4 separate regions of the Homo sapiens genome follow, and all the other regions are linked to region 2. The links come from fine-mapping of genetic effects on gene expression. A gene starts in region 2. Each other region holds a variant in brackets. All regions are shown on one strand. Distances are between the middles of the regions. Region 1 overlaps DAB2IP (DAB2 interacting protein). Region 2 holds the start of DAB2IP (DAB2 interacting protein). Region 3 overlaps LOC107987016 (a long non-coding RNA gene). Region 4 holds the start of LOC105376257 (a long non-coding RNA gene).

The links. PIP is the estimated chance that this variant, and not a neighbour inherited with it, causes the effect.
Region 1: its variant is fine-mapped to the expression of DAB2IP in whole blood (INTERVAL, PIP above 0.99).
Region 3: its variant is fine-mapped to the expression of DAB2IP in whole blood (TOPMed, PIP above 0.99).
Region 4: its variant is fine-mapped to the expression of DAB2IP in whole blood (TOPMed, PIP 0.99).

Annotation. Positions count from the first base shown.
Region 1 is chr9:121,710,592-121,718,691 of GRCh38, reverse strand. The region is part of intron 3 of DAB2IP (DAB2 interacting protein); the gene reads right to left. Among named protein-coding and RNA genes, the nearest start is that of DAB2IP, 63 kb to the right of the region's middle. RefSeq lists an enhancer at 1-574. The variant C/T (reference allele first, on the strand shown) is at 3,989.
Region 2 is chr9:121,647,447-121,655,546 of GRCh38, reverse strand. DAB2IP (DAB2 interacting protein) reads right to left here and starts at 3,913. Exons shown (of 16, transcript NM_001395010.1): 1 at 3,648-3,913. The coding sequence starts at 3,771. RefSeq lists enhancers at 378-877, 5,336-6,171.
Region 3 is chr9:121,555,704-121,563,803 of GRCh38, reverse strand. The region is part of intron 1 of LOC107987016 (a long non-coding RNA gene); the gene reads left to right. Among named protein-coding and RNA genes, the nearest start is that of GGTA1, 60 kb to the right of the region's middle. RefSeq lists an enhancer at 5,480-5,774. The variant G/A (reference allele first, on the strand shown) is at 4,413.
Region 4 is chr9:121,733,519-121,741,618 of GRCh38, reverse strand. The region is part of intron 3 of DAB2IP (DAB2 interacting protein); the gene reads right to left. It overlaps LOC105376257 (a long non-coding RNA gene), which reads left to right and starts at 4,569. Exons shown (of 3, transcript XR_930314.4): 1 at 4,569-4,786; 2 at 5,939-6,108. RefSeq lists an enhancer at 2,974-3,750. The variant C/T (reference allele first, on the strand shown) is at 3,918.

The DNA.
Region 1 (8,100 bases), 63 kb before region 2:
TCCCATTCATTCCTCTTGACAATGCCATGAACTGATACTATCCCCCATTTTGCAGAGTTAGCTAAGTTCTCTAAAGTCACAGCTGACAAGCGGCAGAGCTGGAATTTCAACCCAGCATTTGCCTGCAGTGTCCTGTGGGTCAAGAGAGGAGACCAGGGCCTGGTGGCTCAGGGGAGTGGGTGATGCAGTGTAAGGACTCGAGTCTGGAGACTCCCGAGGGACTTGTTAAGACCTCGAAGTCGGGTTTTGTTGTCCCTGCAGATAGATCTTGAATGGCACCAAGCCCATCCCAGCGTATGTTGATGACATCCCTTGGGCGTGACCTCACCCACACATGGGGGTGTGCAAGCAGAGTCCGAGGACCCCCGCCCACGCCTCCCTTGCACCATCTGCCTGAACGCTGCCTGAGCTGCTGCGAGCAGCCAGTGAGTGAGTGAGTGAGCCTTGGAGGGCGTGAGGGAGCTGGGAGAAGGCAGCCAGTCAGGAGCCGCGGCTGCCGGCAGCCACACAGACAGGCTGGCGCAGAGCTGTTGCCAGGGCAGGCAGGAGAGTCTGCCTTCACAGGCAGAGGGACTGAGGATGGGTCGCTCTCTCCTGGGCCACCAGCATGTCCATCCAGGGCCTCCCCACCAAGAGCCTGGCCATTCTGAAACCTCGACACATAAGGACAGCAGCCCCACAGGGAGACCACCAGCAAGGAAAGCCATCGAGACAGAAGGCATGGTCACACCTGACATGCCGGAAACAAGACTGTCATAACGCGGCCCAAACAGGGACCTTGGCTGGGGGCTAGAGGCTTCTGGGCCAGGAGTTTCAACAACCCAGGCTCAGCTTGCAGGACACCCATCACTGTGTGGTACCTGCCCTCCCCCTGGACCAGGAACAGCAGGAAGTCCAGGACTGGAGGGGGAGGGGAAGAGAGAAAGAAGAGGGAGGTGGTGCTCAAAGGAGAATGCTCCCAGGAAGGCAGGACCCTGACCAGACTCTCACCCGGGCCTCCTCTCAGTGCCCGGCATGTGGTTGCCACATGGCAGGGTGAGGCACGGCAGCCAGAACTATGGGTAGAGAGGAGTAAACACGCCAGGAGGGGCAGGTCAGAATGCCCAGGGCACTGCTACGTGGTATGCTGTCCATATGCACACATACTAAGGTCAATTACACACCGTGTGATAAACAAGTGTGTGACCCGAGTGAATCTGCCCAGGGGCGGATTCTCAGGATCCACATGCCAGGGGTAGCTACAGCAAGCGCGTTAAATAGTTTTCTGTAAAACTGCACCGAAAAGGATGCAGTGTTTCCTCTCATGTGTAGAAACGTGCTTCTGCTAGTACAATGAGTGGCTTTTAGCTAGCTGGATAAAAAGGGCTTGTGGGCACCGCCATCCTGTCTGTACCTGCCCTGAGATTCAGGCTAAGCAGCAGGCCAACTCTTAGGAAGCCACTCAGAGTCCAGAATTCTGCTTGACCCGAAGTCCCACCACTTAGAAGATCCTGGCCCCTGAGCCGATGTGGAAGTTGGTAATTCCTACCATGAGGACTGCATAGCATCACCTAGGGGTGAATCTATGGTGAAAAGTGCTTCTCTGAGGGCAAGATTCCCCCGGGGCTGCCCCAGGCTCACAAGAGACCCCGGCCCATCTTCATGAGTGCTTGCTATGACACATGCGTGCACAAGGCCCAGCTCCGTATGAGACTTGCCTTCGCTGAAACAGTCTTCCTGGTAGATGCTAGGAGCAAAGGAGACAGAGTTCCCACTCACTACTCATCATTAGAGGCTACAGAAATTCACCAAATAACCTGACAACAGCAAAGTGGACACTTTGACTTAGCGGGAAGAGTGACTGCAGGGTTGACCATGGGAAACGTGTGGCACTGAATTACCACGCCTACCTTGGTGCAATGGCTCCCATCTTGGTCTTTGGCCAATCTGGGAAACTTGTTTCCCCATCACATTCCTGGGCCTCAGGCATGTGGCTCCTGGCCTCCAAGGAGGCAGGAGCAAGAGCAGAAAGCAGAACACTGGGTACCAACCCCAGGATGCCCACTGGTGTCTCCTGGCAGCACACTGGGGTGCTGGGACGGGGATGGATCCCCTCTATACTCTCAGGGCCAGTCTCTAAGGGCCCTGCTGTTTATGTGAAGAACTAAGCAGAATTATTTTGGAAATGGAACCTGAGCAGGACAAAGAGCTGGGCTCTGCAACCAGCCCACATAAACACTTAGCCTCTCGCCAGGAAGGGCTGCAGTTTATATTTCGCAAGGGACAGGGCACAGCCAGTCAGACCTAAGTTTGGGATGAAACTCAGTTTCCGGACAATAGCAGTAGCAAAGCATCCCAGGCCAAGTTCCTGCCTCACCTGGGGTTCAGCTGAGCACCAGGCTCTGCCTTACATGTGGCCCTATGGGCACAGTGTGGCCTGGCTTCCTGAGCTGGCAGCAGGCAGTGTTACATCCAGCCCAGGAAGATAAAAGTATACTCCACTACCACCATCCCTTGGAGGCCTGTGACCCTCTCAGAGACGGAAGAATCCAGAGCTGCTAACTGGGGATCTCAACACTTGAGTGGGTCTCAGAATCACCTGGGGCTTGTCAGGAATACAGATTCCAGAGCCCCCCTTAGACCTGTGACCCTGACCCTCCCAGGGTGGGGCTCCAGAATCTTTTTACCAGGTTCTCATGGCACTATGATGCTCAGCTACAACCAGGCACCAAGACAAAGTGGGATGCCTCTGGTGCTCCTTCATAATGCCCACAGGAAATGCCTGGACTCTCCTTATCTGCTGCTGCCACTCCTGAAACCTTGGGAAGTTTACAAGAACTCACAAGCACCTTCCTTAGAAGCACCTTCAGGTGACCATACCTCCACCCACCTCTGCAGACAACTGATAGGCCCTACCTGATGACAGTCCAGCTGGGATTAGAGGCAGGGAATAAACCAACCCATTTCATGGGGAGAGAAGTGTGTTATTTACAGAGCCTTTTGAAAGAGGAGTCACTAGTTGACCTGGCATTTTGATCATCAGAAAACTACCCAAGTCATGGCCGGGTGCAGTGGCTCAGGCCTGTAATCCCAGCACTTTGGGAGGCCGAGGCAGGCAGATCACGAGGTCAGGAGATCGACACCATCCTGGCTAACACAGTGAAACCCTGTCTGTACTAAAAATACAAAAAAATTAGCCGGGTGTGGTGGTAGGTGCCTGTAGTCCCAGCTACTCGGGAGGCTGAGGCAGAAGAATGGTGTGAACCTGGGAGGCGGAGCTTGCAGTGAGCCGAGATCCTGCCACTGCACTCCACTCCAGCCTGGGCTACCGAGAAAGACTCTGTCTCAAAAAAAAAAAAAAGAAAGAAAGAAAAAGAAAAAGAAAACTACCCAAGTCACGCTGTCATTAAAAGGAAGCAAAGACCCAAGAAAGCAAAGAGGCCTGGCTGTGGCTGTTGAGGGTTCCCCCTTTCTAGAGTCCTATAACCCTCTCTCTAAAGACTCTCAGGCAACCACCATGAAGCCCCCTGCCCTGCAGGAGCAAGGTCCTTAACCCTAGCTAAAGAGACACCCTCAGGGCAGCAAGTGCCAAGGCCAGCTCCCTGGAGCAACGGGGCATGCCCCTTGGCATGGGTTCCCCATGTTCAAATCTGGACTCTGCCATTTAAGGGTTCTATGACCTCTGGCAAGTCTCTTAACCACCTTCAGTCCTGGTTTCCTCGCTTGTGAAACGAGAAATATCCACTTCTTAGGATGGCTGGAGGGTTAAGGCCATACAAGTCCCGTGGCAGCCCCTCCTATAAGACCCAACAGGACTGCACGAGTTCTCCCACTGCCCAGAAGGTTCTTCCCTGAGAGCTCAGCTTACTCCTTTTGTCATCGGGGAGGCCCTCCCCACCACCCCCACCAGATGAAACCCTTCAGATCTGGGCTCTCACTGCCTTCAGGACACATGCCTTAATTGCAATTACACAGTCACCTGTAGGACAATTGCACTTCAGCCTGTGTC[C/T]TCCACTAGGGGAGGAGCTGGGGCTGGTTTTGCTCACCATTACATCCCTCAGCTTAGCACCATGCCTGGCATGTAACTGGCTCTAACTGAAGAGTATCCTCTTCTTTGAGACCAGGTTGTCAGAGCACCTGTCCCATTGTTGGCTCCTGACTTCATCACTCAGTAACTCCTGAGTCCAGCCTCTATAATATTTGAATCGGTGCCCCGCCCTAAAAGGGAGGCTCACAGCGCCAATAGCTGCCTGCCTGTCTCCCTGCTGCTCAGGACTCGGCCTTGCATGGCTCTGCAGATTTCACGTAGTAACACCTTCTCAGAGTTTCCGAAGCAAACCAAAGTCATTTGCCAACCATTTTCTCCCATTAATCTCACAATGCATTTGCTATTTTCCCTCCATAATGACTCATTTAGCAGCAACAGAGCAATTAGGCAGACCACAGAATATTGATTTTCTAAGTGGGAGAAATGTCAGCACAAACATCACTTCATGTGTCTTGGGCCATCTCTTGCTATATATATGATGAGGTGGACCCTGGGAAGACTGGGTTGGATGTGCTGGCAGGTTGTGGGATCTCAAACAAAAAAGCAAAAGCATGGTGTGTGAGAATGTGAGTACATGTGTGTGATGACAGAATATGATCAAATTACCATGTAACATGATCCCATGTAGACCTCAAAACCCTGGGAGGTAGGCACCACAATCATGGTGCCCATTTAAAAATGAGGAGACAGAGGTTCAGAGATTAGGTGACTTGTCCCAGATCATGGAGGAAGTCAGGGCGTCGGATCTGGATCTGGGTCCATGTGTCAGCAGAGCAGGATTCTGTTCATCAGAGAGCCCCCGTGTGGCTTGCTTTGGGACCAGAATGGAAGTGTCAGGTGTGGCAATGCAGTACCTTTCATGGTGTATGGTATAACCCAAGATTTTTGAGATATAAAACAGTTGGCCTGAGTCCTGAAGTCACATCTCAGCCCCGGTGCAGCCTCTAAGCCCAGCTGCTGTGAACAAATTCACCCCAGGCTCCCCTGGCCATCCACCAAGCTTGTCCAGTAACTCTCAGGAAGGCCTGGAGAAAGACAAGCCAGCTGGAACCCCCTGCCCTGCTCCTTCACCCCTGCACCACCACTACTGGCCAAAGTTGAGTGCATACCCAGTTTCTGGGGCACCTCAAACATTCCCACCCTACAACAAGAGGGCAGGAGAAGGAAAAGGGTGAGAGTCGGGAATGGTGTGATAAGCAGGCATCTGGCGGTTTTAGGCCCCTGTCTACAAATGGCTCCAAAGCCAGGCCCCACAGCTTGGAAACCCTGAAGGAAGGCTTTCACTCACTCCTGCCTCCACCCTCTAGACACTCCAAGCAAGCTGGGAAGGGCACTGTCAGAGCAACAGGTCCTAAGGCCCCACCCCAGCCAACATACTGACATCTATCCAGGGAGCAAATGGTTTCTTGGTGGCCAAGAGGAAAGAGCTGAAGGCCCAGCTGGCAGACGTGGGTTTAAATATCAACTCTATGTGCCCCTGGGTGAGACAATTACCCGCTCTGGGCCTCAGTTACCTTATCTATAAAATGGAATAATCCCTGCCCTGCCACCTTCCTAGCTGGTGTGAGGGCCATGTGGGGAATGACAAGGTGCCACATAAATGCTGCCTGGGGAAGCTCCACAAAGGGGGAAGTTTACAAGAGTTGGCACTGTCCTCCAAGGGCAGGGGCCGCTCCAGGTGGAAAGAGCTCCCCATTGCTGGAGATGTGCCAACACTCTGGAGTGCCGGTGTGGATGGGAAGCAGAGCATCCTGTACGCCCTCCCAGGGGCTCAGACACACGCTGGCACATTAAAGCCTCTAAGGAGCCATGCATTAAAGAAACTGACTGACTTGGTTCACTGGACCTGTTTGGACTGTGGAATTCCCTCATCCCAAGTACCCATTAACATCTGTAAGAATATGTTCAGTAGAACCCATTTAAGAAATACTCCTACAGAAGGTTTGGAGCAAGGCCTTTCAAGAGTACTCATGGCGTGGCGAGACTCTAGGACTTTCCCCAATGTCAACCACATGTTGGGGGCAGGCCCACCCCTTACTCTCCTTTCTAGCATGAAAGGGAGACAAGGCCATGCGTCAGAGGGAAAATTCACGTCAATGAAACACCATCAAAAGGGATTTAGAAATCTCAAATAGGAATCACTCCCAGGCTACCTCCAACTTTAACAAGCCCAGAAACTGGGAGGGATTGAAGAAGGGCCCCAAGCAGAAACACCTCCCCCTCCCCTACTTGTCTGAAAACTGGCCCTCATTGCTCTTACCTGCTGCATAAGCATTGCTCCCTTTGGGCTGCCAGAAAAGAGGGCTAAGCCCCACAACAGCTGATCACACTTCAGAGAAAAAGGGTTAGTGGGACCACAGAAAGCAAGAAGAATAAGAATCCTAAACCATCTGTGTGCTAGAAAACCCATGTGTGGATCCTGGAAGAAAGCACACACTACCCCTCACCTGCCCTTTATCATGCTATGGGAGCCATGTGGACACACCAGAGCCAGCCCCCAACCCAGTGCCCTCTCCTCTCTCTGGGGGCTCCATGCCAGGAAAAGCAGAGGAGTCCAGGAACCATCGGCTCCCCTGGAAGAGCTCCGGCAAACCTATCCATGGCAAACCCATCCATAACGGTGCAGACTTTGCTCCCAGCAAGGACAGAGCTTTATTAATTATTCAGGAGACGGTGCAATTATGCAAATCTGTGGGCAGCCTCTGCCTGACCACTGCCTTCTGCAGAGGGAGTCTAGAGGGGGATGGGGAGGCCCAGAGCCCAAGCTGCCAGGTACATGGACGCCACCCAGCCTGCAAAAAGGGGAATAAACCCCTACACCCTAGGCCTAGGCTGGTCCCAGACAAACCACCTCCCCACAGAGGGCTCTCTGACCAGAGCCAGGCCCCATCCCACACACAGGAGAGCTGGTAGCTGCTTTGAGGAATGATATTGAGGACCTAGGATGACTTTTTTCAAATACATATGACCCACTACCTGTTGCTGAGCCAGCAATGCCATCATTCAAGGCTTACTCCTGCAGGTACTAAGGGCAGGGAACACTTCCAGAGTTTCCTCCAAAACATGCTTCTGAGGAGACATAACACCTCAAAAGAATGTTTACCAAATAATGTTCTGCAAAATACAACTGCTCCACAGATGTTAACAGCTGCTCCTGGGGTTGGGGGACAGGAAACCCTGGATTAAACAAAGCAAAACTGACTTCTTCATTGCAGGACCTCTCAGGGCCTTTCATCTCCTGGGTCACAAATGATTTCCCAAGAATGAGGAAGCAAAATTTGAGGATGTAAAATGTATTTGAGCACACAATCACCCCACTGGAGTAAAACATCAAGTCTCACCTCCAAGAACCTCTGACACTGAGTTTGAGAAACTCTGGACAGACTGCTCCCCAGTCCTGTTTGGACTATGGAATTCTCTCATCGCAAACGCCCATTAACATCTTTAAGAATGTGTTCCATGGAACCCAGTTCGGGAAAACACTCCTATGGGTGCTCTGAACAATAAGCAGCAGAGGTACGAAAGACAACAAGGCCTTTCAAGTGCACCCCTGGCTTGTACAGACTCTAAGACTAAGTTCTCTGCCAGCTCCATTTTTCCTTAATTCTGAAACTCTCTGGAATAGGTTTTCACTATCCTCATAAACAACCATCAAATTCGTGGACTTTATGATCCTAGGGCAACTGAGCAAGACCACCTCAGGCAGGCTGGATGGGCTCCGGGCAGAACATCTGGCCCTGGCACTACCACTTCCCTACGTCACATCCAGTCCACAGAAGGTGGTGACACCAGGGCAGTGTGGCCTGCAGCACAATAGGCAACTCCCTTGGTGAGTCTGCTGTAGTACTGCCTGGGGTGGCTGGGGATTTCAGCGCCAGCTTCACCCATCTTCCCACAGATCCTGAGCAGAGGCTGGTGGGGGAGTCCCTGGCCACCATCATCATCACCCTGTTTGCCTTCACCCTCCTGGGTAGTGATGGAAGTCACCTCTATGTTCTTCTGACCTTGGAGGAAGGGAAGTGCTATGGAAGGCCACTTAGCCTAGCCACGACCCCTTCTTGTACCTGCCCCAC
Region 2 (8,100 bases):
ACCCCAACAAGCTGGCCTCCCCAACAGACTGGGGGCTTGGCAAGGGCTGGGAGCACATGTGATTCATCTCCATGTGCCCCTGCACCCAAGCTGAAGCCCAGCACATAGTAGGTGCTTAAGAGGAGCTGACTGGCTGAATGAATGGGTCAGAACTTTATCCAGGGCTAGAGGAAAATTTCTGTTTCTCCTAGCAGCCCTGGGGAAACACAGGGGTCAGAGACAAAACTTTTCTTGATTTTGGTGTGACTAGGTGGGGAGGCACCTTGCTGATGATACCCTTCTGGGGAAAGGATCCCCCCAAATCCATGGGACATGCCCAGCCTTCAAGTGGAGTTAGGGACACAGTGGGAAAATGCAAATGGCCCTCACCCTCCGAAGGTCACTGTTTCTACCCCACCTCCAGCTACCCTCCAGCTTCGTGCTCTACCCCCCACCACAGCAGGTCTCACTCTGCCCATCCTTCAGATGGGGAAACTGAAGCCCAGAAAAGGGAAGAACCTAAGTCCCTTATTGGTCAAACTAGGGAGACTGCAGATACTGTCCCTCACTCACAGCCCTACCAGGGACAAAGCCCTGCTCCCTTCCCCCAGCCTGGCCACCTGCAGAACCTGGCAGCAACCAACTCTTCCTTGCATTTTTCTGTTTCTGAACAAATACACAGCCTGAGTTCTTGGTCATTTTCCTTCCCTGCTAGTGCCAGAGGCCAGAAAGGGTGTGGGGGCAAGAGTCTGATCCAGGCTGAGATGCTAGGCACCACCCACTCCTCTGAGGTCCGATGCTACCACACCATGGGACCAAGCCCCCATGTGGATGGGGAGGCTGAAGTTCAAGGTCAGAAGGGACTGGCTCAAAGGCCACAGGGTGGCTTCCTCAGCCTGAGTTTCTCCCTGGGTGGGGCCCTGCCCTCAGGTGGTGGTTGTGGCTCTGGGGTAGAGTCAGGCGTCTGAGGCTTTAGTGGAGGGAGGGCAATGGCTGCCCTAGCTGCCTCCCACCAAGGAGGAGGAGGACAGGGTGCCTCCAGCCTCCACCCTACACCCTGGCTGCAGCTGTAACTAACTCCTCATCACTCCAGGCCTTCTTTTTTTAAAAAAACAAACAAACAAACAAACAAAAACAATATTGAGACAGGGTCTTGCTATGTTGCCCAGGCTGGTCTTGAACTCCTGGGCTCAAGGATTCCTCCTGCCTTGGCCTCCCAAAGTTCAAGGCCCTTTATCAAATCCAAACTACTGTTGCCTGCTCTTCCCCACCCACTCACCCAGCCCCCTTCCCAATCCACTCCCCTCCCCAAACCCAGGAGGAACTCTATTCTCAATACCCAAGCCGTTTTCCTTCTCCCTGACTGCGCAGTCTGTTCATTCTGTCCAGAGAGAAGACAGTAGCTCACCCTCAGCTGCAGCCTTAGTCCCAGGCACTGGCTTCTGGCCCTCACATGACCCTGTCACTGCTAGCCCCATTGACCACACAAGGTCACTGAGGCTTGGAGAGGTAACTGGCTGTAGAATAGTTGTGTGCACAGCTGAGACTTGAACCCAGATCTGACTCAATTACTCCCTCTGCGAAGGGAAACCCTATCCATTTTGTGAGATCCCATCCAAATGTCACCTCCTCTGTGAAGCTCTCCCTGATCTCCCCAGATATAACTTCTGTTCAGAGACAGTCTCCTCCCCGCTCTGCAGGCCGTGAGCTCCTTCAAGCTGGGACACAAGCAGTGATCCTGTGTATGTGGGGTCTGGGAGCTGGGGCTCAGGTGACAGCCCCTGACACATTGATTATCCCCTGCCTGGTCAGCTGAGCAGGAGGTCAGCTGAACAGGAGCGAGACTCCCATTACAGTCAGGGATGGAACTGGGCTGAGGTGAGAAGAGGAAAAGGTCACACAGGGCATTTCTGAGGCAAAGGAGGGGCGGGTGGGTGAGGTGACGTGAGGTGGGTGCAGAAGGAGAGGCCCCAGGGTGGTCTGAACAGTACTGGGCATTTTCAAAGCTCCCATTTCTCAGTTTCTTCACTGAATCCTCCACATACGGCAGGTCCATTTTACAACCAGGAAAACTAAGCTCAGAAAGGGGAAATGACTTGCCCAAAGTCACAAAGCTTGAGCCCAGATTCCCGGTCTCCCAGACCAAGTCCAGGGGAAGGGAGTAAGTACAGAATTAACAGTACTAAGCCTTTCTCCAGGTCTTAGCAAGTACAGAATTAAATAGAAGGACAGAGATAGAAGAACCAAAACCTGAACCACTGAGATAAAGCCTTCCCCAGGTCTTTAGTACTCCCTCCAAGGAGTACTAAAGGCTTAGTACTCCCTCCAAGGAGTACTAAAGGCTTAGTACTCCCTCCAAGGAGTACTAAAGGCTTAGTACTCCCTCCAAGGAGTACTAAAGGCTTAGTACTGTTAATTCTGTACTTACTAAGTAACTTAGTACTGTTAATTCTGTACTTACTAAGACTTCAGGAAAGGCAGGAGTGGGGGGATTGCAGGCTTTGAGAGACCCTTGAGGACTGAACTACCAGCACACACCTGTGCACACACTTAGCCTCAGCTTGAACCCTTCTGTGCACAGGGAACTCACTACTTCCTGAGGAAGCCCTGGACTGCACAGTGCTACTCAGACCTGACTGTGGGAAAAGTCTTCCCCATTCTGGTGGAAGCAACCGAACACTACCTGCCTGCTTCATTTACCCTCACACCGACAAGAAAACTGAAGTTCAGAGGCAGCTCAGCCCAGGTCACACAACGGCAGCCTGCAGGGTGGGAATGTGGCCCCTCTTGGTCTACCAGATTCCCTGCATGGCATTTGTTGGCACAGGGCCCGGCTTCCCACTTTCAAGATAACCTGATGGTGTCAACTCGGCCCAGGTCCCTGCTAAGGCGCCGTCTTTCTCCTCCCTTCCACCCCACGGGCACCCTCGGTGGGCCTGAACCTCTGCCTAGGACTCCAGCCTCCCCAGAGCCCCTTTGAAGGCCTCCTCCTCCCAGGGGCTTCCCTCCCTCCTACTCAGCCAGGGAAGGAAGTCCCGGCCACCACCCGCCCAAACGCAGCCCCCGGGATCACACGCATTTCCAGCCGAGGATCCTGTTACTGGAAAAAGAAAATGCTGCTCGCACCTCCCCCTCCGTCTCGTCCTGCCTCCTGAGCTTGATGGAGAGAAACTTTGCAAAGGAGCTGGCGCCCACCCGCTCGAGGGGTCACGGTTCCTTCCCTGAGGTCCACCCACTTGTCCTAGCACCCAAGAGGTGGGGAGCCCGTTAAGTTCCTGGAAAGGGAAGAAAGAAGTCCGCGGCCTGGGCTGGGAAGGCAAGGTGTGGGAAAGCTCAGATCCACCCTGGGTTACTTTATTGCCCGGCTGCTGAGTAAACTGAGGCACAGTGGGGTAGGAGGTCTGATCTGAGATGCGGAGAAAGATTCCAGGCTCCCCTCTCCCTGTCCCTGGCTTAAGAGGAGACCCTAGAGCCTCGGCTTCCCCCGGCGAGAGGAGGACTAAGCAGAAGCTGGGGGAATGGGGGGTCCGGCAGACTCAGGAAGGGGCGGATGAGGAAACCCCCGGCAAATGGCTGGAAGGAGGATCCCGGTCCCTAGCATCCCAGGGCATCAGGTGGCTTAGTGGCCTTAGGAGGGTCTAGGGGTCAGGGGTCGGGGTGGCGCCTACCCCTGGCAGGCCGGGTCCGGCTGCGGGAGCGGCTCCTCTGTCGCTGCAGCCGGGGCCGCCTCAGCAGCCGGTAGTAGTAGGAGGACCTCCCGGTGCTCTTCCTGGCGCTGCCGCCCGCGGACATGCTGCCGCCCGCCGGGCACCGGGCCGGGCCTGGGCGCGCTCACACGGGCCCCATCGGCCGCTCCGGACAGCCCGGCGGGCGCCCACGCGTTCTCCCGCGCTCGCCCGAGCGGCCGCCGAGGCCCTGGCTGCCCCACAAAGTCGCTCAAACTCCTCCTCCGCCTCCTGCCCCCTCCCGCTCCCCGAGCAGCCGGCCCCGCGGCGGGGGCTGGGGACCCGGAGGCCGGGCTGGCACCGGCCCGGAAAGTCAGTGCGGGAGAAATCCCGGCCTGGAATCGGCGGGGCGAGGCGGCCCGGAGTTTCCCCGGGACCCCAGACGGGTCGTCCCGAGGGTTCTGGCTCCCACCCCCGCCCCCGAGGGTTCGACCGTCGACCTGAGGGCGCACCAGGCACCCAATCCCGCCAGCGCGGGTAGACGGTGCACACCTGCTTGTGCGCTCTCCGGAGCCCGGGGTAGGACGCATGCTTGGGGACGGTCACCTTCAATTAGGGTCCGTTCCTGCCCCAGGCTCGCTGGGCTGAGAAACGACCCTCACTGCTCCGCAGGCCCTGGCCCAGCCAGGTTGAAAGACTCCCCTGTGATGCAGGATACTTGCCTCTTCTTTACGTTTTAAAGGTTGTCCCGTCTGATACACGTATCATTTTTATGTAATTAAAATTACGGTGTCTGTTTCAAGCACTCAAAGCACTGAAGGCAGGGCAGAACAATCCCTACCCTACCGTAGGCACCAGAAACTCAGGGTGGCAGAAGGAAAGGTACCAACTCCCTCTATTGCATTGGCTGAAAAACTTTCTCCAAGTCACTCCTCAGCTCAAGAGCTTTCCGTGGCTCCCCAGAGCACAATGGCAATACGTCTAAACATCCTTGTTATTTGGACCCCAAATAATCTTGCCCCAACCAAAGTCCCCTCCAGCCTCACCTCTGCTCCCCCTAATTCTCACTTCTCTTTGCTGTGCTGCCAGCAGGGACTGCCTTCTTGGCTATTTTCTCCACCCGACCAAAGTCCACCCTTTCAGGACCCAGCTCCTCCACCCTTCCCTAACCATGGCCCACAGTGATCTCTCTCTCTCCCCGCCCCTTATCTCTTTAGCAATATTCGTCGTTTAAATTATTAAGACACCTGCCTGAGCTGCCTCCTTTGAAGTACAGAGGGGGAAACTGAGGCCTTGGCAAGGAGGTCTTGCCTCAGTCACATGGAAAGTGGCAGAGGCAAGTGGTCTTAGCCTGGGGCTCTCAACATTCAGACTTAGGGGTGGGGGGTGTGAGTCACCGCAAGTGCCTGAGGCCGGCTAGGGGATCTTCCTCCAGAACAGTGGGGAAGGTGGGGCCCTGGAGTGGGCGGGGCCGTCTGGGCAGAAATCCAGGCCGGGTTTTGCACCTCACAGGGGAAGCCCCCTCCCTAGCGCTCTCAGCCAGCGGGGAGGGTCCCTAGTCCTGCGGAGCCTGTCTCACAGCTGGAAGCCAGGCGCCTTCCCTGACCAGGGGGGAGGGGCAGGAGGGGTGTTACTCCAGCAAACTCAGTCTGAGGAGTCCAGAGCTATCAGCTGCCCTGGTCCCCTCTTCCCTGAATACTGGCCAATCCCACAGGAAGATGGAAAACCAGGGTGCCCAAGAGGACACCCTTAGCCTCCTTTGGGTTAGGCCAGGGGTGCCCAATCTTTTGGCTTCCCTGGGCCACACTGGAAGAAGAAGAATTGTCAGGCCACACATAAAATATACTCACACTAACCATAGCTGATGAGCTAAAACAAACAAACAAACAAAAAAACCACACACACAAAAAAACCTCATCATGCTTTAAGAAAGTTTATGAATTTGTGTTGGGCAGCATTCAAAGCCATCCTGGGCCACATGCAGCCGGTAGGCTGCAGGTCAGACAAGCTTGGAGGCATTGCCCTATCTCCTTTCAACAGCAGACATGGTGCAGGAACGTCTCTAAAAAGAAGCCCCTGGACAGAGCGCACACACAGTCACTCAGTCCCCAGGCAAGCTGGGGGCCTTGTTAGCATGCATCCTCCTCTGGCCAAACTGCCAGAACCCAGTTCAGTGCCTCCTCACGTAGGTGGGGTTCTGAGCACCACCTGTCCACATCTTGGCACTTCCAGGCATGACTAACCTCCGTAGCCAGGTCCACGGGTTCTGGGGGTGAGGGACTCCCAGGAAGTCCTACTCAGGACGGGGGCAACGGTCCTGCTCCCAGGGCCTGAGTTCATCTGGCCCATTTTGTTTCCCAAAGCAGGAACCCTCTGATCAGCCAGGTTCCAGCCCTCCCTGGAGGGGACGGGAGGCTCACAATCAACTCACTGTTATCAGTGGTGTGGGCAAGTGGTCTTAGCCTGGGCCCCCAACAGGAAGTCTGAGGAGTGTGTGTGGAGGGGAGAGGGGGCAGTAACTTGGAACTCAGGACCTCATCTGTAAGCACAGCTGGGCTCCAAAGGTCTGGCATGGTCTCCCCACTTCAGCTTTTCAAGTCCTTCTCTGTGCCTTAGTTTCCCTACCTATAGGGAGAACGTATGGACCCCCAATCCATCTGCCTTGTGGAGGAAGGAGGGTCAGCTAGTGAAATGGAGGAAGCTTGTGCATTTCTACCCTTGGGATGGGAATGGGCATCGCCAACCAGCTGAGCCGAGCATCTCCACGGGCCTGGGGCAGGTACTCTCCGGGTACTGAGTGGGAAGGGGGCAGGGCAGGAGCTAGGAGAGAAAGAGCCCAGGCTCCTTTTCCTTCTTCCTGGCCCAGGAACAGGGCAGTTAAAGGCCGCTCCCTGTACAGCCCAGCAGGGGACCTGGAATCAATCCTGCTGGGAAACTGGCCCCCCATCTGCTCCCACCTCCCGCCGGCGCCCCTGTGGCTTTCTCTCTCTGAACAGGAGAAGCCCTGCTTCCAGTGCCCACCACCACCATTGCTACCACTGCTTCCTGTGACAGACCAACAGATCGGACTTTCCAGCCCTGCCAACATGAGAGCCTCAGTACCTACAGGGCTAAAGGTCTGGTCTTATTCTCCCACCTCCAGAGGGGCTCCTGAATAGGCCCAGCTCCCACCTCTCCCATGTGCTGCTTTAGCGGGGACAGGGCTGCAGCCCCCAAATCACCTTCACTCAGTGAACAGGCATATTTCTGAGTTTCCCTCAAGACGCTCAATTCAGTGGGTCTGGATGGGGCCTGGAAACATGCAAGTTTAGTAAGTAGGGGTGTGGGTACTAGGACTGGCTAAATCAGATCTGACCTAACCCCACCACCAGCACCTTTACCCTCCCCTCAAAAGCCTCCCAAGGCGAACTCTCAGAGACCAAGCTGTGTCAAAAAGCGACCACCTCCCGCTTGCACCCCAACCCATTTCAGCCCCCTTGGTCATCCTCCAGACACTCTTTCCCACCACCAGTCTTCGCCCTGTTGGTGGGACCTGGACCGCTGCCACCAAGGTCTTCCCTCTGCACCCACCTGGTGCATTCCTGCTTACCCTTCAGGACCCAGCTCAAGCATCCCCTCAGTTTTTTATTTTTTAAATTTTTTATTTCCATAGGTTTTTGGGGAACAGTTGGCATTTGGTTACATGAGTAAGTTCTTCAGTGGTGATTTGTGAGATTTTGGTGCACCCATATCCCGAGCAGTAACTTGGGATACACTAAACCCAATTTGTAGTCTTTTATCCTTCACCCCCTTTCCACCCGTTCCCTGAGTCCCCAAAGTCCATTGTGTCATTTTTCTGCCTTTGCATCCTCATAGCTTAGCTCCCACTTATGAGTGAGAATATATGATGTTTGGTTTTCCTTTCCTGAGTTACTTCACTTAGAATAATATTCTCCAATTCCCATCCAGGTTTCTGGGAATGCCATTAATTCATTCCTTTGTATGGCGGAGTAGTATTCCATCATATATATACATATATACCCGTATATATATATAATACGTATATGTATGTATATATATAATATATATGTATATGTATGTATATATATGTGTATATATGGGTATATATACGTATATATGTGTGTTTATGTATATATATGTGTGTGTATATATACATTTTTGCAATTGCAAATTGAAGCACCCCCTCCTTAAAAAAGTCTACTCTGACTCCAAGGAGAGACACCCCCCTCCTGGCTCCTGGTATACCCCACTAGTCAGTTTGAATAATGGGGACACAGGAGGCTACTTGTGAAGACCAGGGAGGGATGGACCCAAAAAATTCCCCTCTAGGCAGAAAACCATCAGCATCCCTGCTGGAAAAGAAGCAGTGGGTAGCATCAGAGCTGGGCTGAAAGTCCAGGTACATCATGGGCCAGGCCAGGGTGGGTCAGCAGGGGCACCAGATGCAGGGGAGGGA
Region 3 (8,100 bases), 92 kb after region 2:
TGTTTAAGTACAACCAGAGCTCCTACCCTCCAGGGATTAATCGTATTGAACATCGGGCACTAGGCTCTGCTTCCCTCCCTTTATGATAAGAGACCCATCTATTTAGTGGCTGCGTAACATTCCACCCTTTGGCTGTGTCACACCTGCTTTGAGCCAATCCCCTATTGATGGACACCTAGGTTGCTGCCAGTAGTCATGATGACAAGCAACGCTGCAAGGACTATCTTGACTGTACTTCTGTGGGCATCTGTCTACTGATCTCCTTAGGAGAAAACCCTAGACATCAACTTGCTGGGTCAAAAGGCGCCTGTGTTTGCAAAATTCCCAGTGTGGCGGCAAAGCGCGTGCAAGCCCCCTCTGTTCTTTTATTCATTCCACCAGCTGTTGTTGAGTCTGATTTTGTGCCCGGCCCTGTAGAAGGCCTGGGATGGTGGGTGTCCCTGCTCCTTTGAATTTCCACCCTAGCTGGGGGGAGACACGCACGCTGTCTGGTAGAAAGGAGTGCTATTCAGAGAATTACATGGGGGCTGCACAACAGAGCAGGTGATATCCAAGCAGCAACCTGCCAGGCAAACAGAAGCCAGCCATGCAGAGTTCAGGGGCCGAGCATCCAGGAGTGGGCAGAGCTGCTGCAAAGCCGGGGTGAGAGTGAGCTGGCTGAGCAGGAGGGTAGGAACGATGGCCAGCATGGCCAGGGCTGGGAACCGCTGGAAGAGTAGTCCAGGAGAAGAGGGGAAGGTCACAGAGGCCACCTCTCCAAGGACCTTGTGGGCCAGGGGATGTGGGAGCCATTGCAGGTTGAAGCAGGAGAGTGACATGAGAGGTTCCCTGGCTACAAGGGGAAGGTGGCCGGAGGAGTGGCCAAAGAGGATGCAGGAAGCCAGTGGGTCACTGCTGTGGTCCCTAAGGAGAAAGACCTCAACCAGGGTGTTGGTAGCAAAGGTGGGGAAAAGTAAACAGATTCAGGATACATGTGGGGGCCGGGCACGGTGGCTCACACTTGTAATCCCAGCACTTTGGGAGGCCGAGGTAGGCGGATCACGTGAGGTCAGGAGTTCAAGACCAGCCTGGCCAACATGTTGAACCCTCGTCTCTACTGAAAATACAAAAATTAGCTGGGTGTGATGCTGGGCATCTGCAATACCAGCTACTCGGGAGGCTGAGGCAGGAGAATCACTTGAACCCAGGAAGCGGAAGTTGCAGTGAGCTGAGATTACATCATTGCACTCCAGCTTGGGTGACAGAGTGAGACTCAGTCTTGAAAAAGAAAAAAAAGATATATGTGGGGACCTCACGCACAGCCTGACAGATGTGGAGGAAGAGAAAAGAAACATGTCCAGGCAGACTCTGAGGCTCTTGGCCTGAGCAAGTGGATTGGTCCATGGAGCTGGGAGAGGCTGTGTAGAGAGGGGTAGGGCTGGGCAGAGGGAACTCTGCTGTGGTGACGATAAGTTTGAGAAATGTAGACAGACATGTGGCGATGTCCGGCAGGTCACTACTGGCTGCGGGATCAGAGCTCAGTGGAGTGGTGGGGACAGAGGGCATAGCTCTGGGAGCCATAGCTCCCACCAGCCCACTGCATGATCCTGTTCCAGCAGCAGCAGGAATTCCCAGGTTCCAGACATGACCTGTCACTCCATGTAAAGGAAGGAGCTGAGGAGTCACTGGTGGCAGCTGGCCCCCCGAGTCTGGCTGCGTGGAGGGATGTCAGCAGGAGGGAGTGGGTGGACCAGGGTCCTTCAGTGGGCATCAGGGAGAGACAGCAGCACCTGGTGGCCAGCTTGTTCATTGGCTGCCCTGTTGGGGAGGATGTGGCCAGTGAGGGTGGCACAGCAAGATGTGGCATCTGCCCCACTCACCCCCTCTGCCCCTGCCAAGGCCTGGGCTGGGTGGAGATGGGGGAGCCAAACACAAAGGAATAATTGAAACCAAAACCCAGGGGCCTAAAAGCTGTAAGAAGACAGGTCTAGGGTAAAGGAGCAGCATGAGAGAGGAGTGATCTGCTCAGCCGGATCCAGAAAGCCTTTGCAGAGGTGGGGCCAGCCCAGTTGGACTATGAGGGATGAAGAGGAGTTCATCAGGCAGACTGGAGGAGGACGGGCATGTGGCACTACTGTGTATCAAGGCATGCAAATGTGTGACAGCCTGGCTGTGTTTGCTTTCAGGTTATTTTCCTGCTGTGAGTTCTGATTTTTGTTTTGTTTTGTTTTGTTGAGACAGAGTGTTGCTCTGTGCCCTAGGCTGGAGTGCAGTGGCGCAATCTCAGCTCACTGCAAGCTTCGCCTCCCAGGCTCCAGCAATTCTCATTCTTCAGCCTACCAAGTAGCTGGAATTAGAGGCACACGCATCTGTACCTGGCTAATTTTGTATTTTTTGTAGAGATGGGGTCTCACCATGTTGGCCAGGCTGGTCTCAAACTCCTGGCCTCAAGGGATCTGCCCAGAGTGCTGGGATTACAGATGTAAGCCAATGAGTAAGCCACTGATTTTCTAGCTACATCCTGCTATTGAAGGCCAAATGGAACCCATAGAGGGCTCAGAATGTCTTACTCTTCCTGAGATTCGGAGCCAGGGTGGAGACTGACCTAAGGCGGGGGCACTTTCCTCAACCCAGCACCACTCGTCTGCAGGACACGGACCCTAGCCATTTAGCCAGACCCACGTGGGCTGGAATCCGGCGTCGGCTCTGGCTCCGGTGCCTCCCGACTGGGTTTCTCACCCCAAGGACAGGTAGCAGAGCTTAGTGATTTGGAGCTCAGGATCTGATATCAGCCTGCCTGGGTCCAAATCCCAGCTCCCCATTTTCCAGCTGGATGACCCTGGGCAAGTGATTTCACTCCTTAGTGCCTCTGTTTCCTCATCTGTAATCGAGGATAAAAATAGGCCATGCCTGGAGAGCCATTAGGAGAACTAATGAGTTAATTCAGGTAGAACTTAAAATGGAACTTGGGGCCAGGAGAGGTGGCTTATGCCTATAATCCCAGCACTTTGGGAGGCCGAGGTGGCGGATCACCTGAGGTCGGGAGTTCGAGACCAGCCCGACCAACGTGGAGAAATCCTGTCTCTACTAAAAATACAAAATTAGCCGGACATGGTGGCGGGTGCCTGTAATCCCAGCTACTCAGGAGACTGAGGCAGGAGAATCACTTGAATCCGGGAGGCAGAGGTTGCGGTGAGCTGAGATCGCACCATTGCACTCCAGCCTGGCCAACAAGAGCAAAACTACATCGCAAAAAAAAAAAAAAAAAAAAAAAAAAATAGAAGTTGGACCAGAGGAGGTGCTCAGTGAATCTAAAATCCATAGCCCATAGCACAGCCTGCCAGGCCCTGCAAAATCTGCCCACCAGCTCATCTCCCCCTCCTCCCATCTCTTTCCCCTCTCTCCTTGTCTCCCTCCCTCTCTCCTCCTTTCCCTTCTCTCCTTTTCCTTTCTCCCTCTTCCTCTCCCCCCTCCCCCAACCACATGGGCCTCCCAGTTTTTCTTTGCACTGCCAGGTGCATCTCACCTCAGGGCTTCCCTATTTCTTCTTTTTTTCTTATTCTTTTTTTTTTTTTGAGATGGAGTGTTACTCTGTCACCCAGGCTGGAGTGCAGTGGCCCGACCTCAGCTCACTGCAACGTCTGCCTCCCAAGTTCAAGTGATTCTCCTGCCTCAGCTTCCTGAGTAGCTGGGATTACAGGTGTGTGCCGCCATGCCTGGCTAATTTTCATATTTTTAGTAGAGACGGGTTTCACCATTTTAGCCAGGCTGGTCTGGAACTCCTGACCTCAGATGATCTGCTCAACTCCACCTCCCAAAATGCTGGGATTACAGGTCCCTCTATTTCTTCTGCTTGGGATGAGAGCCCCCTCCCCCGTGTTCAGGTCCTGGCCATATGCTGCCTCCTTTAGAGGCTCCCCTGATTACCCTCTCTAAGATATCATGACCCCTGCATCCCTGCCTCTCCCATGGCTCTGTCTGCCCCTGTCCCGGCTTTAGTTTTCTTCCTGGCCCTTCGGATCCCACCTGACATTATTTATATATTTATTTGTGTATCATTCTCCAGCCCCTACTTTCATGGAAGCTCCAGTCTGTATCCCAGCACCTAGAACTGTGCCCAGCACAGTGGGCCCCCAATAAACATGTACTGAATAAAATATTTGGCCGGGTGTGGTGGCTCATGCCTGTAACCCTAACACGTTGGGAGGCTGAGGCAGGTGGATCGCTTGAGCCCAGGAGTTCAAGACCAGCCTGGGCAATATGGCAAAACCCCATCTCTACAAAAAATACAAAAATGTGCCGGGCTTGGTGGTACACGCCTGTAGATCCAGCTACTCAGGAAGCTGAGGTGGGAGGATCACTTGAGCCTGGGGTGTTGAGGCTGCAGTGAGCCATGACTGCACCATTGCACTTCCGCCTGGGTGACAGAGCAA[G/A]ACCCTGGCTCAAAAGAAAAAAAAAAAGTATCTGTGGAATGACTAAGCGTTGGCTGAGTTGTTATTTTTTTTTCCCCACTCCCTCTCGCCTTGTATGCACTCCATCCAGGAGCCCTTATTGAGGTACTGGGTTCCTTCTCTGTCACCCAGGCTGGAGTGCAGTGGCACAGTCTCGGCTCACTGCAACCTTCACCTCCCAGGTTCAAGCGATTCTCCTGCCTCGGCCTCCCAAGTAACTGGGATTACAGGTGCAGGCCACCATACCCAGCTAATTTTTGTGTTTTCAGTAGAGCCAAGGTTTCACCATGTTGGCCAAGCTGGTCTCAAACTCCTGACCTCAAGTGATCCACCCACCTCGGCCTCCCAAGTGCTGGGATTACAGGCGTGAGCCACCGCGCCTGGCTCTCCCTGCATCTTAATGCTTTTCTGGTTGGACTGGGTCCTCCCCACTTCTCATTCAGGGCTGGTACCCGGGGGCCAGAATGGGAGGAGGGAGACCAGAGGGTCTTGTACTCAGAGAGGCCTGGTACTCTCCATGCACCTCATATATCAACCTTCTAAAAAGGTTTTCTGAGCCCCATTTCACAGATAGGAAAGCTGAGAGGCGTTCAAGGGGCTGAGAAGCAGCAGAGCTGGGGCTTGAGTCCGCCTGACAGGAAGTCATTATTCGCCCCAAGTAAACACCCAGTGCCTCTTAGCCAAGGAGGGCAGAAGTATGTCTGGGTGGGGGTGGCAGGGAGGTGTGGAGGTGGGAAGGGGCCTTCAAAGAGGGAATGTCTGAGCCAGGCTTTGGTCTGCTCCCTGGTGGTCTCACCTTACATCCCGGGCCCCTCCCACAACTGTCCTTCTCCAGCCCCCGCATTTAGGGAGGCGGTGGTCTCTGCTTTATTATTATTTTTGCAAACTTTTATTTTAGGCGCAGATTTGTTATATGGGTAAACTCATGTCACAGGGGTTTGTTGTACAGAGGCTTTCTTGACTCATCTAAAGGCCTTGAACCAAGGGTTGGCACCGCCTTAGGAATTCTGAGCCAGCCCCAGGGGACGAGGGTGCATTGCCGGCGGCCCTGTCATCGGCTCCCCAGGGCAAGCAGGGGCCACAGACAGCCAGCTGCCCCATGTGTGTGCTTGCCTAGGGTCCTCGTGAGTTCCCACGTCCTCTCAGGGAATCCCAACTGTCCCAAGGAAACCCAGGCTCAGAGGAGGAAGTGGCTAATCAGCCGCACAGAGGGAGGATGTGACAGGCACCACGCTTTGGGGCTGGGTTAGAAATTTGAGTCCTCCGCTGTGGTGCGGCTGGGGAAGTTAAATAACTTGGCACTCCCTCCCCCAACACACAGCTGATTCCAGGGCCCAGACTCTCAACCACAATGCCCTGTGGCCTCCTCCTAGTGCTGCACAAATGTGAGGTGGAATTATTAAACAACCTCAAACCTTTCCAGGAAAGAAGGCAAGCTATAAATAAATGCCTGGAGTTGGGGGATTTCCAGGGCTGAGTGGACGGAGATGATGGTCTAGGGTCCTCAAAGTTCCTGGAAATCATCAGTTTCATGATGAACTGTGGGGCTGGACTTGAGATGTGTTGGCTGCTGGGTCCCACGGCTCTGCCTCGTGTTCCAGGAAGCTGTTCCCTGGATTCCCGTAGCAGGCACACAATTGTAGGAGGTCAAGGCAGGGATGAGACACAGGCTTGTGTGGATGGAGTGGGATCTTCAGCAGCTGGCAGGAATAGGGCCCTCTGTCCCCTTTCCCAGCCCCCAGAGCTTGGCCTTGGTGAGGCACAAGGGCCTGGCCATCATCCAAGAGAACCCCAGGCTTCCTGAGCTCTGTGTTGGAAGCAACTGGAGATCTCAACCAGTAAACCCTCCAACAGGGCAGCAATCTCCTGACATCCTTGATCTAAACTCCGCTTGCTTACCTCCTCAAATGGGGAACTCCCTACCTCCAGGCAATCCTGGTCCTAGCTTTTCTTTTTCTTTTCTTTTTCCTTTTTTTTTTTTTTTTTTTGAGACAGAGTCTTGCTCTGTTGCCCAGGCTGGAGTGCAGTGGCACAACCTCGGCTCACTTCAACATCCACCTCCTGGGTTCAAGCGATTCTCCTGCCTCAGCCTCCTGAGTATCTGGGACTATAGGCATACACCACCACGCCTGGCTCATTTTTGTATTTTTAGTAGAGACGGGGTTTCACCATGTTGGCCAGGCTGGTCTTGAACTCCTGACATCAAGTGATCCACCTGCCTCAGCTTCCCAAAGTGCTGGGATTACAGGCGTGAGCCACCACACCCCCTAGCTTTTCTTTTTTGTTTCCATTTGTACAAATGTATGAGGTACATGTGCAATTTTGTTACATGCATAGATTGTGTAGTGGTCAAGTCAGGGATACTTACGGGGTATCCATCAGGCGAACAACATCCATTGTACTCAGTAACTAATCTCTCATCCTAGTTTTATTCTCTGTGCTCACAGGGAGTGATTCTGCCCCGGGGAAGCCCCTGAAGTCATCAGAACTCCCCACATGAGCTCAGCTCTCTGCATTCCACCTGACCCTCCTCCCCAGCCACCCTTCCCCATGCTTCTTGGCTAGTTTTCAGGTTTTGTGGCCAGTCAGGATAAACCTCAAGAAGCTTGGAAGCATTTCACCAACCCGGCAATGACAGCAGTTTATGCAATTCAGCAAACTTTCACCAGGGACTATGCCAAGTGCTGGAGACACAGAGATGAATCAGTCAGTCACTGCCCGTGAGGCTCTCCACTCAGACGGGGATTGGGAGGGTGGGGAGGGATACCCGAGGCATCAGCCAGGAGGGGGCTGGATCAGCAAAGTGAGCCTACCTGGTGGAGGGGAGGGTTTGAAAGGATCCTTTAGGGTAGCTAATTTCCCAGTGACAGAGAGGGCATTTAGGATAGGTGGACACAAGAGAAAAAAGCCAGACAGGCCACAGAGCTACTGTTTGGCCCCAAGCAATATATTATATGTCGGGGTTGGCAAACTTATTCTGTAAAGGGCCAGGTGGTATTTTAGGTGCTCCAGGCCATGTAGTCACGGATGCGACTGCTCAACTGGCCACTGTAGCTTAAAAGCAGCCATAGACAATATGTCAATGAATGAGCATGGCTGTGTACCAATAAAACTTTATTTGTTGACACTGAAATTTGAATTTCCTGTCATTTTCTTGTGTCATAAAACAGTACAGTATTATTTTGATTTTTTCCCCCCAACCATTTAAAAATGTGAAAACAGGCCCTGTGTGTATGTTCATGCCTGTAACCCCAGAGCTTTGGGAAGCTGAGGTAGGTAGATTGCTTGAGGCCAGGAGTTCAAGACCAGCCTAGATACAAAAATTAGCCGGGTGTGGTGATGTGTGCCTGTAGTCCCAGCTACTTGGAAGGCTGAGGCAGGAGAATCTCTTGAACCTGGGAGGCGGAGATTGCAGTGAGCCGAGATCACACCATTGCACTCTAGCCTGGGTTACAGAGTGAGACTCCATCTCCAAATAATAATAATAATACCAGCCTAGGCAAATAGTGAGACCCCATCTGTACAAAAAATAAAAAAGTTAGCCTCAGGTGTGGTGTGTACAGGAGGATCCCTTGAGCCCAGGAGTTTGAGGTTACAGTGAGCTATGATTGTGCCACTGTCTTCTAAGGCCTGGGTGACTCTGTCTCTTAAAAAAAAAAAAAAAAAAAGC
Region 4 (8,100 bases), 86 kb before region 2:
TGCCTGCTCCGTCCCATAAGGAGACAAGGACAGAAGGTGAGAAACACTGAGAAAGGCTGGGCTGTGGCCCAAATCCTTTGAGGCCTGAAAACAACCTGTCTCGGCTACCCAAGCCCAGACTAAGCAAGTCTGCTGGGTGAGTAGGAGGGGCAGAGCAGGAGGGAAGCGAGAGCCTAAAGCCACACAGGCTGTCAGGAGGCAGCATAAGTGGCTTTGCCTCTCCGGGAGGGGCCCTGCCTCCAGACCTCTCTGGGTTTGTCTTCCATGCTCACGTGTGGTCATGGCATGTGATCCGGCTGAGCTCACCTTACCTATGGGGAGTTCTGCATCAGCCATAGGGCCACCCTACACGCCTGTTGCAGAAACAGCCTCCCCAAAAGCTACAGGCTTTGCCGCAAGCATCCCCAAGGTTTGACAAGGTTCAAGGCTTGCCTCATCCTATCTTCCTGGAGCCGAATGCATCTGGTGCGCATGTGGGGAGAGGAGGGGGTGTCGAGCATCAGAGGAAACAGGTGGGTGGGAGGCAGAAGGAATGCCTTGGAGCCCTGGCAGAACATCTGGCCACTATTCTTGAGAGGTAGTAGGAGACCTGGGTGCCTTAACCTCCACCCTTACTACCTCACCCCCAGGATTAGTCAGTAAGAAGAGGCCCAATTTGGGGGTTTTGCAGGCCCAGGCTCCAATTCTGGTCGTGTCATTTAGCAACTGTGGAACCCTGGACAAATCCTTTTACTTTCCTGAGTCTCAGTTTCCTCATGTATAAAATGAGGTAATACACTATCCCCTGCAGATAACAGATGTAAAAACACTGGTTAACCAGGAAAAGCATTTAACAAAGCAACTGGGAACCCCAAACTCAAATATCTGAGTGCCATTCATTCAACAGACACTGAAACCCACCAGGCGTCTAGCAGACATTATGTTATCTCCAGCTGTGTATGCCAACCCTGCACCCTCAAGCCGATGCATTCTGAACCCTCCCCAGAGCCAGCAAAAAGTCTTGGGGCAGGGTTGTTGGGGGTGAGGGTTAGAGCTCCTGGCCACCAAAATATTGTGTAAAACATCTCAAACTTCTCCAGAAGCCAAACACATAAAGGAGCCTTCCAGAGAAATACCCTTGGTGTAAAGGAAGTCTAGCTCTGCTCTGGGAAAGACACTTGAGGTAAGCCAGGCTCCAGGATACTCTTATTTAGGGGCCGTGGACCCAGAGAGACTGGTGTAAGGAAAGGGGCTGACGGGGGGAACACAGGGTCAACAGACTCAGCATTCAGTCCAAAAACGTGACAGGGCACAGTGAGCAAGCCTTCCAGAGAGTGGGTGGAGAGGGCTCAGAGAGCTGGGAAAGATCACTGTGGGGGGCCTATCGGCGCTCCTGAATCAGAATCTCCAGGCTGAGATCCACTGGGTCAGCTGCTGCTGGTAAACCTACGCTGTGGACAGAGAACATTCAGGCCCCTCCCTGGCCCTCCCCTCCTCAACATCCTGGGCCAGCTGGGTCCTCACGCACTTCTTTGCTCACTGCTGTCCCCGCCACCTTCTCACCTCCTTTTCCTACTCAACACACCTGTCTGTTCCGACCCCACTGGGTCTCCTTGAGGACACCAAAGGCCTTCATGTTGCCAAAGTCAACCAGTTTCTGTGCCTTACTACCCCGTGAACCCAGGCCACCCTGCTCCAGCTTTCCTCTGTTCTCACAGGCTGCTAGCACCTCACCTCCTTTCCTCCCAGTGCTGGAGCTCCTCAGGGCTGTTTCGGAGACACTTCCTTAGCACAACACTTTCCTTTGGTGATTCTTTCCACTCCCATAGCTCTAAATACCTCCAGCATGCTCACGACTCCTAAGTGCATCCCCAGCCCTATCCTCCTCTGAGCTCCGGACCCATGTGTCTCCATGCTTGCCTGACAGCGCCTCTGGGACACCTCTCGGAGCTTCACGTCTGAAATGTCCAGCGTGGAGCCTCAGTAGCAAAGCCAGGAGCCCTTCCTTTCCCTGGCCTTTGGAATCCAATCCAACACAAATCCTGCTGCTACCCCCTCTGAAATCCCTCATACCTGTTTACTCCTCTCCATCTTCCCCAGGCAGCCTGCTGTCCGGGCAGCCTCCCCAACCACTGGGCTTCCCCTTACCCCTACCAGGGGAGTCAGAGGGACCCTTCAGAAATGCAAATCAGATTACTGAACTCCTCACCTTAAAAGCCTTCAATTACTCCCCACTGCACTGAATAAATCTGAACTGCTACCCAGGTGAAAGACATTGGCAGTCATGACCTACCTACTCTCTGACCTCATCCAGCAACACCCAACGCCCCCCACCACACACACCAAAGTCTCTGTTTCCTGCTCAAGGACTTTGTACTTGCTGCTCCCTAGGCTAGGAGTTCTTGCTCCAGCACACTCTAACAGCAAACTGGCAGGCTTCTGGCATCTTCTGCAACTCAATCCTTCCCTGACTGCTCCATCTACAACAGGTCCTGCCCTGCCCCCATTACTCCCTAGTGGAACACTTGGCTTGTTTCCTTCATAGCATCTTGCTCATGCAGCTAGCAAATATTTAAGTGCAAACTATGTGCCAAGCACTATTTAGGCACTGGGAACACAGGTGCTGAACAAAGCAGACAGAAATTCCCTGACTCACATTTCAGTAGGGGAACTTCACTATGTTTCCCAAAGCAGAATCACTTTGTTTCTCTGCTTATTTCTTATCTGCCTCTCCCATCACAAGGTAAGCTGTGTGTGGCCAAGCTCTACGTGTTGTATTTCTGTGTCTTAAGAGAGGGTCTGACACAGTATAAGAGCTCAGTAAGTCCTGATGAAATCAAGATGCAAAAACAAAGACCAGAGCAGCCAAAGAACCAAACCCCAAACCCTGAGAGACACAAGAAATCAAGAGCCAGGTCTTGAATGCCTCCCATGGCGTCTCTCCCTAACCCTGGGGACCTCAGGTGGGAAGGAAAGCTTCTGTGACAGCCCAGCCTTCTGGGGTCAGACAGAGGCACATGTGGCAGTTTCGTTTAACTGCTCTGGAACAGGTGGATGACTGCAGGCCTGAGAAGTTAGGGAGGCTTCTTGAAGAGGCTAGATCTGAACAAGGCCAACCCACAACTCCCTCCCAGATCTAGGGAGGAGGAAAACACATTTGTGTTTTAGGGCTCTGATGTCTGATGTTCTTTGCTCTAGCAGGAAAGAAGAAAAAAAAACCCTTTACTTTTATTAGTGTCTGGATCAATAAAAGTTTTAGAAGTAAAGCTTCCCTCCTGCAATACTAACTGAGAGAGAGAGAGACAGACATGGATTATTAAATCTGTCTCAGAGAGGCAGGGCTGGGAGAGCGCGAGGGCACAGGGGCACCGGCAGTTTCCCCCTCACCTGTGCTGGGAGCCTCTGGCTAAAGGCCCTCATTAGCCCTGCAGCCTAGGGTCAAGGCCCGTTCCTCACAGCTCACCCACCAAATGCTGGTTCCCTGAGCCTAGGTCAGCAGCCAGGCCGCTGGACACCCACCTTCCAGGTGCCCCACAACCTTGCCTGCTTGGCCTTCTCTGAGCTGTGCCCTAAAGCTTCCCCCCAGCCCACCTCCCCACCTCCAGGTTGGAAGCTCCAGGAGGGCAGGGCTTGCTTCCCTGGAGGAGGAACCAGTTTAGCAACCCCAGCCCCCACCTTCACTCTTCCTCCCATGTCCAAGGGAGTCCCCCATTCAGTCCCCCAAGCCTTGCACTTTCACAGCACACCAACAAGCCCTGCCCACTGAGGACTCAGTCCTGGGACCAGGCCTCATTGGAGAAACAGCTCCTCACCCTCCAGCCCGACCAAAGCCTGTCTGACCCCATACCTGGCTGGAGACCCACCCACCGGGGAGGAAGTTTCCTTGTGGTGTCTGTCCTCCCTCCCACAGGACTTCAAACAGACCTTTGTGGTGGGAG[C/T]GCAGGCCTCTCTGCTGACCTGGTTCTGGGCACTTGCAACCCCCGAGGCTCTGGAGCCAGATCTGGCTTCCGAAGATGGCCAGGTCTCCAGTGAGCAGCCCCTCCGGCCCGGCCCAGGATCTTGCCGAAGTTGTCACTAAGAAGTCCAAGGCCACAGAGGCCCATTCCCAAGGGTGGTGCTCACCCAGGCAGCTCTTCTGGACAGATTAGGGGGCCTCTCGGCCGGGCCGGCATCTAAGAGGTGAGCCTAGGAGGGCTTCCCCTTCCCGAAAGGCACGTGCTGAATCTGTGTCTTCCAAGCTGAAATTTCAAAAATGACTTAAATAAACACAGTGATGACAACATCTAAAGGTTTCCGTGTCCTTCAGGAAACAAGTGGAAAATTACCGTCTTCCATGCAGGTAACCACATGGCACAACCTCCAGGTCCAAGAAGACGAGAAACACTCCTGAAAGCAAACTATCGCTTCCAGCCATGGCAAGTCGCCCTCTGGGGCCTCTGGGCAGGGTGCAGGCCAGAGCACAGAGGTCTGGGTCAAGAAAGAGGGAGGAGCCGTCCCTACAGGCTCCTCCCCTAACATACTGACTCCGCCCAAGGTCATATCCTGCCCCAAGCCCCGCCTCTGGGCCTTTGTATTTGCCATTCCGTGGGCAAGGCTGGTTCCTCCTCATTCCGGTCTCAGACCCAAAGTCCCGTCCCAGGAAGAGGCCTTCCCTGATCTCTCTAGCTAAAGGGGCAACTCCCACCTCCCAAGTTATCACCCTGCTTCATTTTCTCCACAGAACTACCCTGAAGTCATCTTGTTTGTTTCTGTCTTTTACCTATCATGAAAATGTCCGGTCCACGAGAACAGGGACCTGCACGCCCCGGTAAGCCCAGCACACCTCGAACCAGAGCCTGGCACAGAGTAGACACTCGACAGATGTACTGAATGAATGAATGCATTTTTCAAGCTGGTCTGAGCCAGGTCAGCCAGAGCAGTGGAAGGCAGGAGCGGGGGAACCAAAAGATTTGGGGGCGCGCCAAGGTAACCTCCCCCGAGCGCTGCTCCCAGAGCATTCCGGACTAACGTCGGGCTGCGCCACGCCCCAAACCCTCTCCAGCCCGGAAGCGGCCCGCCCCAGCCCCAGCCCTCCGGGCCCTCCCACCCGCCCCCCACCCCACAGCAGTAGGCCCAGCCCTTCCCAGGCCCGGCAGCGGGTGACATTCCGCGGCCAGCTGCCTCCAGCTGCAGCCACTTCCCGCTAGCGACCCGCCGCTGCGCTTCGGCACGCCGGGCGGGCGGGACGCGCAGGCCCTGGAGCAGGGGTTCGGGGGTCTCTGCCTTGCAACTCCTTCCCCACCTTCGTGCGAGTCTGGGTCCCCACCGGCCCCGCCAGCCCCTCACTTGCCCGCGGCCCGGCTCTCGCGGCGCATTCCAGTTTGGCCCGCTGGCCCCACCCCGGGTTCGTCGGGCTTAGACCAGCGCAGCCCAGAGACCCAACCAAGGCAAACGCTCTCCCTTCCCCACATTTCCATTCCAACATTTTAACAAGTGAACACAACTGAGGTCCAGACAAGGCCAGGGGTTTGTCTACCATGATCCCCTAACCCGACTCCCCACCCCGACTTGGGTCTAGACAGCCTAAGCTGAGAAGGGCACTGGGTTCCCAGGCAGCAGTCCCGGGTTTTCTCTTCTGGAAAGCACCCGGCTAGTCCGGCAGGACAGAAGGGAAAGGTCGGGTGCAGGGAAGGAGGAGACAGGCTGGTGAGCTGTGTGAGCTGCCCAGGTTCCCGATTGCGCCCAGAAGCCTGGGGGCAGACAAACCCCTGCCCCACCTGCTGGCCTGGAGATTCATCCTTGGGTCATTTAAACACGGAAACAAAAACCCCTAGGGGAAAGGCACACCCAGCCAACCAGGTATTTTTGCCTGGGGTCACCCTTTTTCCCATCCCACCAGAGAAGCCACCGCAATGGTATCCACTTACTGAGTCTCTACCACATGCAGGGTATCATACCGTCACACCTCCTTCCCTTACAGCCACCAGCAAGAGGTGCTAATCCAGCTGAGGCCAGGAACCCGAGGCTGCACAGCCTCCCGATGTAAATATGAACAGAAGCCAGTGGGAGAACAAGAGCCACACCCTGGAGTCCCACCTAGGTCCTGCCCAGCTCCTCGCATCCTCCACCCTAAGGCATCACAGACCCCAGGTCAGTCCTTGGCAGTTGCAGCCTGCGCCACTGTTTTAGCAAACAACTACTGAGCTCCTACTAAGCTGCAGACTGTGTCAGGCACCTACTGTGTACAGGCAGGCAGGATACTGTCTGGGGTTATTGCAGGACTGGTGAAGAGGTTTTACTGTGTCCCCAGCAGCAGCCCCCAACCTGGAAAGTCCCTGACTCATTCCATCCCCTGCTGGGCCCTAGGCTCCAGGCTCAGCTCTGCCGTGCACACAGGCCAGGCGATCCAACACCACCCCGTCTGCCCACATTTGCATCAGTCCACACCACCAAAGCCCCAAGAGCTACCCAGCTCCCCCTACTGCCTAAAAGGCTCCCAGCCAGAAGAGCACTTAGTGTCCTGTCCCCTTCCTTCTGAGAAGTTTTCCCTCAGAGCTGTCATCTGTTTATCCAATGTCTTAATAAAATTTCCTAGCAGGGGAGAGGTGAAGATAGAGTCTCAGAGAGGTCCTGGGGCCAGAGAAGCCCCCTTTGGCTCCAGAGCAGCCAAACCAACAAGGAAGGCGAAAGCAGAGTGCATCCTCTGAGCACCACCTCCCTCCAGGGTGCAGGCTCCAAGCCAGGTCTGCTCCCACTGATTTCATGATCATGGCAACAAACAGGCAAGGCAGATACTGTGACCACTTTATAGATGAAATCAAGTCTGGAATAGCTAAGTCATTTGCTCAAGTTGACCCAACTACATCTGAAAGTGTGCCTCACCCCTAGACAACTGTTTTTGCACCTTTTACTAGCCCCCTCATTTCCCTCCTCAATCTGAATAGTCCTTCCTCCTGGAAGCCTTCCTAGATTTCCCTCAGGCAAGAAGCATCCCCTTGTTGAGTCATCCCCACTGTTATAATATCTTGTTATAAGAAAACAGGGCCCCATAACAGGGCCTTTTCCTTTGCATGACAGCTCTCATAGTAAGGAGTCACGAGCTAACAAGAAATGAGCCTGCATCTGAGGGTCAGAATATGTCCATCTCCAGTGGGTCTCCCACCCTCACCAGCTGTCTGCTGTTGCTTCCTCTGTGCCCTCCTTCCTAGCCCCTGCTCAGAAGTCTGCATAACCGCTTGCAGGCTCCTTTCAGCAACATCTTTTTTTTTTTTTTTTTTGAGACGGAGTCTCGCTCTGTTGCCCAGGCCGGACTGCGGACTGCAATGGCGCAATCTCGGCTCACTGCAAGCTCCGCTTCCTGGGTTCACGCCATTCTCCTGCCTCAGCCTCCCGAGTAGCTGGGACTACAGGCGCCCGCCACCGCGCCCGGCTAATTTTTTGTATTTTTAGTAGAGACGGGGTTTCACCTTGTTAGCCAGGATGGTCTCGATCTCCTGACCTCGTGATCCACCCGCCTCGGCCTCCCAAAGTGCTGGGATTACAGGCGTGAGCCACCGCGCCCGGCCCAGCAACATCTTTAGTAACACATAAAAGTACAGAGTACACAGTGACCATTCTTGGCCACGTGTAGCTGGGGGAATTTCAGAAGCTGCCCTGATCCAGTCACTCCTGGTTTCAGCATCTCCTGTGGCCACAGAACAAGTCCAGAGCCTTGGGCCTCGCCCATCAGTAGGTCCTACCTGTCCCTGCACACTCCTCACCTTTATACCTGGAGCTTATCACAGGGAACAGTCACAAAGCCCGCCTCCTTTTTTACTCTTCCCAGTGCATGCCCCGCCTTTCTCACAGTCACACACTTGCTTCCACGAGGCTCCCCTCCTGCCCCCATTTCTAATTTTCATTCACCTTTCAAGGCCCAGCTCAACTGCCCCCACCTGAGGGAAGCCTTCCCAGTGGCCCCGGGCACAGGAAAGTGCACAATCTCTCCCTTTCTCTGCCTGAATTCCTGGTCTGACTCCCTTCTCCTGGCTACTGCTGCCTGCCCTGCCAGGCCTTCCTTGGGGTCTGTTCATCTCTGGTTCTCAGGGCCTAAGGGATTCCATACGTGAGTGATGGAGAAACACACACTGCAGGCCGTCTTCT